Homo sapiens: one gene and its partners. The protein of the gene in region 2 purifies or fractionates together with the protein of the main gene of each other region. This does not show direct contact. Each region holds a gene or a part of one and is shown on either strand. Other genes may lie near its edges.

Evidence for each region.
Region 1: the proteins of ATPAF1 (region 2) and TOP3A purify together in Homo sapiens (affinity purification with mass spectrometry; one large-scale study listed by BioGRID and IntAct). This does not show direct contact.
Region 3: the proteins of ATPAF1 (region 2) and TARS2 fractionate together in Homo sapiens (co-fractionation; one large-scale study listed by BioGRID). This does not show direct contact.

What each region holds. Positions count from the first base shown.
Region 1 is NC_000017.11:18,304,995-18,308,494, forward strand, and holds part of TOP3A (DNA topoisomerase 3-alpha), read right to left. Parts: intron 3,431-3,500; coding exon 3,357-3,430; exon of another isoform or gene 3,319-3,356; intron 2,502-3,318; exon of another isoform or gene 2,479-2,501; intron 1,973-2,478; coding exon 1,897-1,972; intron 227-1,896; coding exon 118-226; intron 1-117. UniProt on the Homo sapiens protein: Releases the supercoiling and torsional tension of DNA introduced during the DNA replication and transcription by transiently cleaving and rejoining one strand of the DNA duplex.
Region 2 is NC_000001.11:46,632,237-46,634,800, reverse strand, and holds the end of ATPAF1 (ATP synthase mitochondrial F1 complex assembly factor 1), read left to right. Parts: 3' UTR 1-2,064; downstream 2,065-2,564. UniProt on the Homo sapiens protein: Has a complex stabilizing activity in the assembly of the mitochondrial F1-F0 complex.
Region 3 is NC_000001.11:150,500,919-150,504,418, forward strand, and holds part of TARS2 (threonine--tRNA ligase, mitochondrial), read left to right. Parts: intron 1-3,416; coding exon 3,417-3,500. UniProt on the Homo sapiens protein: Catalyzes the attachment of threonine to tRNA(Thr) in a two-step reaction: threonine is first activated by ATP to form Thr-AMP and then transferred to the acceptor end of tRNA(Thr). Also edits incorrectly charged tRNA(Thr) via its editing domain.

The DNA of each region.
Region 1 (3,500 bases), on a different chromosome or scaffold from region 2:
TGGGAGGGAGAGTACCTGCAGAGGACCTCATCCGTGGCCCATGTGCACATATAAACAAGAACACTCTATTTATGGAGTTCCAAAGTAGAGAAAGTCAGCAGCAGCAGCAGCACTTACCAGCCTTACACACGTGGATAATCTCAAACCCGATGTTTTCGCCTTCTCTATCACAGTCAGTCCAGATCACCAGAGCCTGGCACTGGCGAGTCTCTCGTTCCAAAGTTTTCTTAAGTTCGCAGTGGAATAAGAGTGGTGAGAACAGAATTGCACAACAGTGACTTGACATCTCTAAGCTAAGGGGATCTGACTGAAGGTTAATGCTGCTCTTGGAGTGTGACAACTTGGCAAGGGAAAGAGAACAGAGAAAACTGCTCTCATTGGTGCTAATCATGATACAACCCCTTAGAACCATAAACGAGTTTCTAGAATAGAGGGTTTAATATAACTTCCCCAATATGACAAAACCTGAAATTCAGCTCTAACACACACACACGCGCGCGCGCGCGCGCGCACGCACACTTCGAGAGGTTCTGATTATGACCTAGTTAAAAAAAACGAAGCCGGCTGGGCGTGGTGGCTCACGCCTGTAATCCCAGCACTTTGGGAGGCCGAGGTGGGTGGATCACGAGGTCAGGAGATCGAGACCATCCTGGTTAACACGGTGAAACCCTGTCTCTACTAAAAATACAAAAAATTAGCCGGGCATGGTGGCAGGCACCTGTAGTCCCAGCTACTCGGGAAGCTGAGGCAGGAGAATGGCATGAACCCGGGAGGCGCAGCTTGCAGTGAGTCGAGATCGCACCACTGCAGTCCAGCCTGGGTGACAGAGCAAGACTCCATCTCAAAACAAAACAAAACAAAACAAAACAAAATGAATCCCAATTGAATTTCATCCAAAGTTTTATCAGTTCTCAATAAATTAACTGGCCAGGCTCGGTGGCTCACACCTGTAATCCCAAAACTTTAGGAGGCTGAGGCGGGTGGATCACGTGAGGTCAGGAGTTCGAGACCAGCCTGGCCAACATGGTGAAACCCCATCTCTGTTAAAAATGCACAAATTAGCCGGGTGTGGTGGCAGGCGCCTGTAATCTCAGCTACTTGAGAGGCTAAGGCAAGAGAATCGCTTGAACCTGGAGGCAGAGGTTGCAGTGAGCTGAGATTGCACCATCATACTCCAGCCTGGGGGACAAGAGCGAGACTTCGTCTCAAAAAATAAATAAATAAATAAATAAAAATTAAAAATAAATTAACTATACATGCCCTGACTGCTTGACAACTGGCAATTTACTGTCAAACAGGCATTTATACTTTGTAGCCTCTTTCATCTAACAAGGGGTGAGATGGGGGCTACGCGCTAATAATTTACAATACTTAGGATTATTTTTTGATAGGGTCTCACTTTCTCACCAGGCTGGAGTGTGGTGGTGTGATTACGGCTCACTGCAGCCTCAACCTCCTGCCTCCTGGGATCAAGTAATCCTCCTTCCTCAGCCTTACTAGTAGCTGGGACTATAGGCATACATCACCATGCCTGGTTAAATTTTTTTTTTTTTTTGAGAGATAGGGTCTCACTATGTTGCCCAGGCTGGTCTCAAATTCCTGGAGTTCATGTGATCCTGCCTTGGCCCCACAAATTGCTGGGATTACAGGCATAAACCACCATGTCCAGCCTTTATTCCTAGGATTTAAACAACTACCATTCATAAAAAAAGTTTACTTCAGTCCCTTGGCCACTTAGCCACATTTATACAATGGGTGGGAACCAGCTTTTTAAATCATGGTAGTGACTTTGGTGGAAAACCTTATCTCCAAATGCCAATGCATTAAAAACAAAGAAATCACTCTGTTTGACTCTGTGGTTTGACTCAGTGCCATATGTCTTCCAAAAGACCCTACCTTGATGTCTACAAAATTCTCTGGGCAGTACTTTTCAATTTCTGCTTCAAAGAGGACAAGAGGGTTGCAGCTCTGCCTAGAAAAGAAATGAAAACAGAGTCCCAACTCAGTACATGACAGAGAGCCCTCCAATCTAATGACAGCAAACTGTTCCAATGGGTTCATGGTGTATCCCCAAAAGAAAAGGTCCCGGTGAATTGAAAGTAAGGCTATGACCCTCTGCATGACACACTGTCCACTTCTCCAAGAGTGTGAACAGGACTGATAAGATGGCATTCTGGAGCCCTTTCACAGGTAAATGCAATCCAATGGCTGCATGAAAAAGGTCTGGCAATTTTGAGGAACACCAAAAGTGACTGTTTAAAGATTTAATAAAAATTCACAATGGATCAGATAATCCTAGGTCATCTTAGTATTATAAATTACTGCTGGGCGTGGTAGCTCACGCCTGTAATCCCAGCACGTTGGGAGGCCAAGGTGGGTGGATCACGAGGTCAGGAGATCGAGACTAGCCTGGCTAACACGGTGAAACCCCGTCTCTACTAAAAATACGAAAAATTAGCCAAGCGTGGTGGCAGGCACCTGTAGTCCCAGCTACTCGGGAGTCTGAGGCAGGAGAATCGCTTGAACCCGGGAGGTGGAGGTTACAATGAGTCAAGATTGTGCCACTGCACTCCAGCCTAGGCGACAGAATAAAACTCCGTCTCAAAAAATAAATAAAATAAATAAATAAATAAATAAATTACCAAGGCACAGTGGCTCACGCCTGTAATCCTAGCACTTTGGGAGGCAAAAGAAGGCAAACCCTGCTTTGTTTAAGACCAGCCTGGGCAACAGGGTGAAACTCCATCTCTACTAAAATAGAAAAAATTAGCTGGGTGTAGTGGCACATGGCTGTAAGGCCAGTTACTTGGGAAACTGAGGCATGAGAATCGCTTGAACCCAGGAGGCGGAGGTTGCAGTGAGACGAGATTGCGCCACTGCACTCCAGCCTGGGTAACGCAGCGAGACCCTGACTCAAAAAAAAAAAAAAAAAAAAACCGGGCATGGTGGCTCACGGTCTGTAATCCCAGCACTTCAGGAGGCTGAGGTGGGCAGACCACCTGAGGTCAGGAGTTCGAGACCAGCCTGGTCAACATGGTGAAACCCTGTCTCTACTAAAAATACAAAAACTAGCCAGGTGTGGTGGCACGTGCCTATAGTCCCAGCTACTCGGGAGGGTGAGGCAGGAGAATCACTCGAACCCAGGAGGCAGAGGTTGCTGTGAGCCGAGATCACACCACTGCACTCCAGCCTGGGAGACAGAGTCTCACTCTGAAACTTTGTCTCCAACAAAAAAAAAAAAAAAAAAAAAAAAAAAAAAAAAAAATTACCCAGTAAGATCAACATGCCTCAAAATTCCTGTGAAATTTCACAACTTACTATAATCTGAAAGTCCTTCCCTTGAGAATTGTACTGACCATTTTCGAAACTGCATCTGGAAATCATGAGCCAGTAAATGTCCAGAAACTGAAGTCATTACCATGGTAACATTCTGAATGATGACAAAATTCAAAATTCAGTTAGTCTTTTTGCAGTTATTATTCTGCCAAATCATTAAAATG
Region 2 (2,564 bases):
CAGAAATAAGAAAGTTGTTCTCCAGAGCTGGAAACCCATCTTTCGTTTGTAGTGTCACTGTTGTGGCTCCAAGCTCAGTGATAGGAAAGGACGGTGGTTACACACCAGCCTTCTGAACCCAAGGCCCCCAGTATTGTTGTCAGCTGCCTTTACCATGGCATTTCTTTCTCTTTCTTTTTTTCCTGAGATGAAGTCTTGCTCTGTCTTGCCCAGGCTGGAGTACAGTAGCGTGATCTCAGCTCGCTGCAACCTCTACCTCCCTGGTTCAAGTGATTCTGCTGCGTCAGCCTCCTGAGGAGCTAGGATTACAGGCGCATGCCACCATACCTGGCTTATTTTTGTATTGTTGTAGAGACAGGGTTTCACTTTGTTGGCCAGGCTGGCTGGTCTCGAACTCCTGGCCTCAAGTGATCCACCACCTTGGCCTCCCAAAGTGCTGGGATTACAGGTGTGAGCCACCGTGCCTGGCCTGACATTTCTTTATTGATCTAACATGCTCCACTCTGCTGCTCCTGCCTAAGATCTGGTTATATGACACTGAATGTGGTGAGTGGGAATTTAAGCAGTATTCGCAGTTTGTGTGTGTGTGTTTTCTTCCTTCCAGAAGAATTTTTATAGGTTGGGCCTGTCCCTAAGCTCTTTAAATAGGGTGGACATCCCACTATTCTCTGAGCCGTGTCTATTTTGTTGCACCTTTGAGTCTATGTATTGAGAGAGACAGATAGTATTTTTTTAAACTGGGGAAGCTGCTATCCTTTCACTATTTCTCTAAAGGTTGAGCTGTTAACTAATGTAAATTCTGGACCTGCTTCTGGTCCTGGCAGTTTATCTTTTGAGAAACTTGAGTCTTATCTGCCCTGCCATTTTCATTAAATGCCTTCTGACCTTCTGAATGTTTTGGGTCCCAAGAATTTTTGACATCAGATGGGGTTGTTTTTATTGGTATCCAGTTATGTTTGCTTGTCTTTCCAGATGGGCCCAGTTATTAGCCATACATAGTACATTGATACACCTCCACCAGCGGGTGAGGAAATGATGGAAAAAGGAGTAAGAAGTGGCCATTCGTTTTAATCATTCCTCCTGGATTTGTCCTCAGTCCCCAACTGCCAAGTAGGATGTGTCCATGGATAAATGTGTGGGGCATGACTAAAGTACCACGTAGCTGTTCTTTATATTTATTTACCTAGAAAGATCTGGCAAAGAACTCAAAGAAAATTGTACCATTTAATCAGTAAATTTGTCCCCTGGTGCTAGCATGGTGTTATAGAAAGTGGACAGGCTTTAGAGTTAAGTGAATCTGGGTTCATATGTTAGTGTTGCTATTCATTAGCTCTATACTGTTGAACAAATTGCTTAAACTATCTAATTTTGGGGTTTTTTTTCCATCTAAAATAGGGATAATAATATCTACCTCATAGGATTATTGTGAGAATTAAATTAACTTCACTATAGTAGAAAATATCAACTACCATCCTTTTCTCTACTTCCCTTGCCCCTCATTAAAGACTAATACAAGTTAGCATTTCAGATGTGTAGATCATTCTTTATTCCAGTTAAAAGAACAAACTTTATCTCATCAGTTCTGAAACTTTAAGATGCAGTAGCATCACCTAAAGTGCTTTTAAAATGCAGATTCTCAGGCCTCAACCGTACACCACCCCCCCACACACGTACTAAATCAAGAATATGTGCAGAAGGTACTGGGAATCTACTTGTTAATATGTGCTCCAAATGATTCTGATGTAGGTAATTAGCCAGCCACACTTTGAGAACCACTGCCTTATCTATTCTTTACAAAAATGTACATTGCCAGGTCTTTCTTTCCTGTGGATGCTAACTATAGGATATTTAGGTTCCTCTGTTCTTTGTCTCCCATAGTGGCCCCCTTTGCAAACTCCAAATACATTATATTTATTTATTCTTGTGTCTTTTTTCCCCCACTAGACTGTGAGCTCCTTGAGGGCCAGGACTTATCTCTGTTCGCAGTGCCAAGGACATGGCCTGGACCATAGAAGATACTCAGTTTTTTGTTGAATAAATAGGTAATATGGATTTCAACCAAAACATTGTCTTGTGTATGTACCTGCATGTAAATACTCTAGATTTAAAAGAATCTCTTAATACACATAGATCGAGAATTTGTTGAGTAGAAATATTTGCAAACCAAGATACCAAGTTATACACAGTTCTCTGTACCTCACCTAATCCACTGGCATTACCTTGGTGGACCATTACACAGTACAACTTAACAGCTGCTCACAGAGCATCTATTCTGCAGCCACTATGTTAAGTGCTGGACACAGAAAGATGAGTAGAGTATGATTCCTGCTCGCAGGCTCTGTTTTAGCCACTGCCTGTTTCTCTCTTGCCTCTGATTCAGTGCCTCACACCTACACCTGATTATAGTTTGCTTTGTCTAGTTCTTGGATGTTCATACTGGTACTTCTTTCTTCTCCAACCAGTTTGGAAGCTGGAGCCACATGTTTTGCTTTGCACTCTCCATACTGACCTTTTGTTCAGTCTTGGAGAAGAGGTACTAATGCCCACTTCCTAGTCATTTGATT
Region 3 (3,500 bases), about 100 Mb from region 2:
AGGTTTAAGGTAGGATTGAGAAGCCTTCATAGAAGGGATCACCATTGCCATTGTATCCAGGGTGGAAGGAAAGGCTGAAGGTAGATGCAAGGAAGTTTGTAGGCATGGTAACAGGAAGTTGAGGCTCTTCCCATCCCATGGTATCAATTATCTGAATTCTTCATGAGGCAGGATCATTTGCTGAAATGAGAGTGGAGAAGAGGAGAGTTGTCAGTGAGGGGGCTGAAGATATGAAGAAAAGGCTGTGTGCAGTGGCCCCCTCTTGTAATCCCAGCACTTAGGGAGGCTGAGCTGAGATGATCACTTGAATCCAGGAGTTTGATACCAGCCTGGGCAACATAGTAACAGGGCATCATAATAAGACCTCGTCTCTACAAAAAAAAATTTTTTTTTTTTTTTTTTTTTTTTTTTTTTATTGAGACTATGTCTCGCTCTGCTGCCCAGGCTGGAGTGCAGTGGCTCGATCTCGGCTCACTGCAAGCTCCGCCTCCTGGATTCACGCCATTCTCCTGTCTCAGCCTCCCGAGTAGCTGGGACTATAGGCAGGCACCCATCACCATCACCATGCCTGGCTAATTTTTTTCTTTTTTTTTTTTTTTAGTAGATATGGGGTTTCACCGTGTTAGCCAGGATGGTCTCGATCTGCTGACCTCATGATCTGCCCGCCTTGGCCTACCAAAGTGCTGGGATTACAGGCATGAGCCACTGCGCCCGACCGTCTCTACAAAAAATTTAAAACAAATTTTAAAATTAGCTGGATGTGATGGTGGGCACCTGTAGTCCCAGCTACTCAAGAGGCTGAGGTGGGAGGATCACTTGAGCCCAGGATTTTGAGGCTGCATGAGCTATGATCAAGGCACCACACTCCAGCTTGGGTAACAGAACAAAACCCTGTCTCAATAAAATAAATAAATAAAAAGATAGAGAAAGGAAATTACTCAAGAACTGTTATATAGCTAAAATCTTTTTTTTGTTTGTTTTGTTTTATTTATTTATTTTTATATATTTTTTTGAGATCAAATTTTGCTCTGTCGCCCAGGTTGGAGTGCAGTGGCGCAATCTCGGCTCACTGCAACCTCTGCCTGCCAGGTTCAAGCGATTCTCCTGCCCCAGCCTCCCGAGTAGCTGGGATTACAGGCATGTACCACCACGCCCGGCTAATTTTTGTATTTTTAGTAGAGATGGGATTTCACCATGTTGGCCAGGCTGGTCTTGAACTCCCAACCTCAGGTGATCTGCTCGCCTTGGCTTCCCAAAGTGGTGGGATTATTACAGGCATGAGCCATCTTGCCCAGCGTTTTTTTCGTTTTTGTTTTTTTCCCCGAGACAGACTCTTGCTCTGTTGCCAGACTGAAGTGCACTGGCGGATCTTGGCTCACTGCAACCTCCACCTCCCAGGTTCAAGCGATTCTCTTGCCTCAGCCTCCCGAGTATCTGGGACAGGTGTGCACCACCACGCCCAGCTAATTTTTTTTTTTTTTTTTTTGAGGCGGAGTTTTACTCTGTCGCCAGGCTGGAGTGGAGTGGCACAATCTCGGCTCACCACAACCTCCACCTCCTGGGTTCAAGCGATTCTCCTGCCTCAGCCTCCCCAGTAGCTGGGATTACAGGCACCCGCTACCACACCAGCTAATTTTTGTATTCCCTTTTTTAGTAGACGGCATTTCACCGTGTTGGCCAGGCTGGTCTCGAACTCCTGACCTCAGGTGGTCCACCTACCTCGGCCTCCCAAAGTGCTGGGATTACAGGAGTGGGCCATGTGCCTTGCCTGGCTAAAATCTTTTGAGTACTCAAAGTTGCTGTTGACTGTGTTGGGGTCTTTTATTCAGGTAACATGTGTATTCTCATTTTTATGTCCCAAGTGTTTATTCCAGCATATGGTATTTATTTACCTGCTTCACTAAGTAGTTAGTAAATTAAAATATTAACAGTAATGAAAGTGTGTCTTCTGATTTATTTCAGCAATAACAGTAGGCAAATAAAATATCTTTATTACTAAGAAAAAAATTGAGAGAGGTTAAACAATGTGCTTAAGGTTACAGATATAACAGTCATAAAGTGTGTATTATGTTGAATCAGTCTAATAAGTTGCTGGCTCAGATACTGCTATAAAAAGAGAGAGCAAAAAACTGGAACATCCCTGAGGAGAACAGAGCATAGAGCTTATTAGGGCAATCCAAAGGATTGCTGGCAGCAGACAGGGACCAGCTGAATCTCGAAATACTGACTTCCATGGTGGCATCAATCTCTGCATTTGCATCTGTGTGGTTTGTGACATATTGGGCAGCACTGAGCAGTTCTCTTGCAGGGCCAAAGATGTAGGAGGCTAAGGTGCAGAAGAACAATGAATGGTACAAAGGGAACTAGGGAAAATGGTACAGCTTCATGGGATAAGAAACAAAGGTGGGAGGGGCCTGAGGATGGGAGAGAAAAAGAGGAGTTAAAGAACCGGTGGGTTGAAGTGCCATTAATAGGAATAATTGTCATGGCCGGGTGTGGTGGCTCACACCCATAATCCCAGCACTTTGGGAGGCCGAAGTGGGCAGATCACTTGAGATCAGGAGTTTGAGACCAGCCTTGCCAACATGGTGAAACCCCATCCCTACTGAAAAAAAAAAATACACATATGTGTGTGTGTGTGTGTGTGTGTGTGTGTGTGTATATATATGTGTGTGTGTGTGTGTATGTGTGTATATATATGTGTGTGTATATATGTGTGTGTATATATGTGTGTATATATGTGTGTATATATGTGTGTATATATGTGTATATATATGTGTGTGTATATATACACACACACACACACACATATACACACACATACATATATATATGTTAGCTGGGCGTGGTGGCATGTACCTGTAGTCCCAGCTACTCAGGAGGCTGAGGCAGGAGAGTCGCTTGAACCCGGGAGGCGGAGGCTGCAGTGAGCTGAAATCGTGCCACTGCACTCCTGTCAGGGTGACAGAGTGAGACTCTGTCTCAAAAAAAAAAAAAAAAAAGGAATAATTCTCAGAGCTGGCTGACCAAGAGACAGTAATCAGAGTAGGGTGTCTGATGGACAGTTTCAGAGGTACAGCCATTGGGGGAGATGACAGGATAAAGGGTGTAGCCATAGATGGGTGGTGGTGAAGATCTCTGAGATGAGGAGCTCAAGGAATTGAGAGGCCAGGGTGTGGACATCAGGTAATATTATAACACCATTATTAGATGGAGAGAGCTGCTGAGAACTACTGCCAGAGTGAGTTGAGTAGAGTGAACTGGAGGGGTAGCGTATGATAGAGCTAGGTGACATGATGAAGGTAGTAGCCCGGGATGAGGGTAGGTTAAAGGGTGGGATGGCACAGGTAATGGAGGATAGTGGTTCTGGATAGTGCTTCTGGCTTATCTCGTGCCTTCCCATCTGTTTCCTGTAGATTGACGTGCACCTCCACGATGCCCTGGGCCGGCCACATCAGTGTGGGACAATTCAGCTTGACTTCCAACTGCCCCTGAGATTT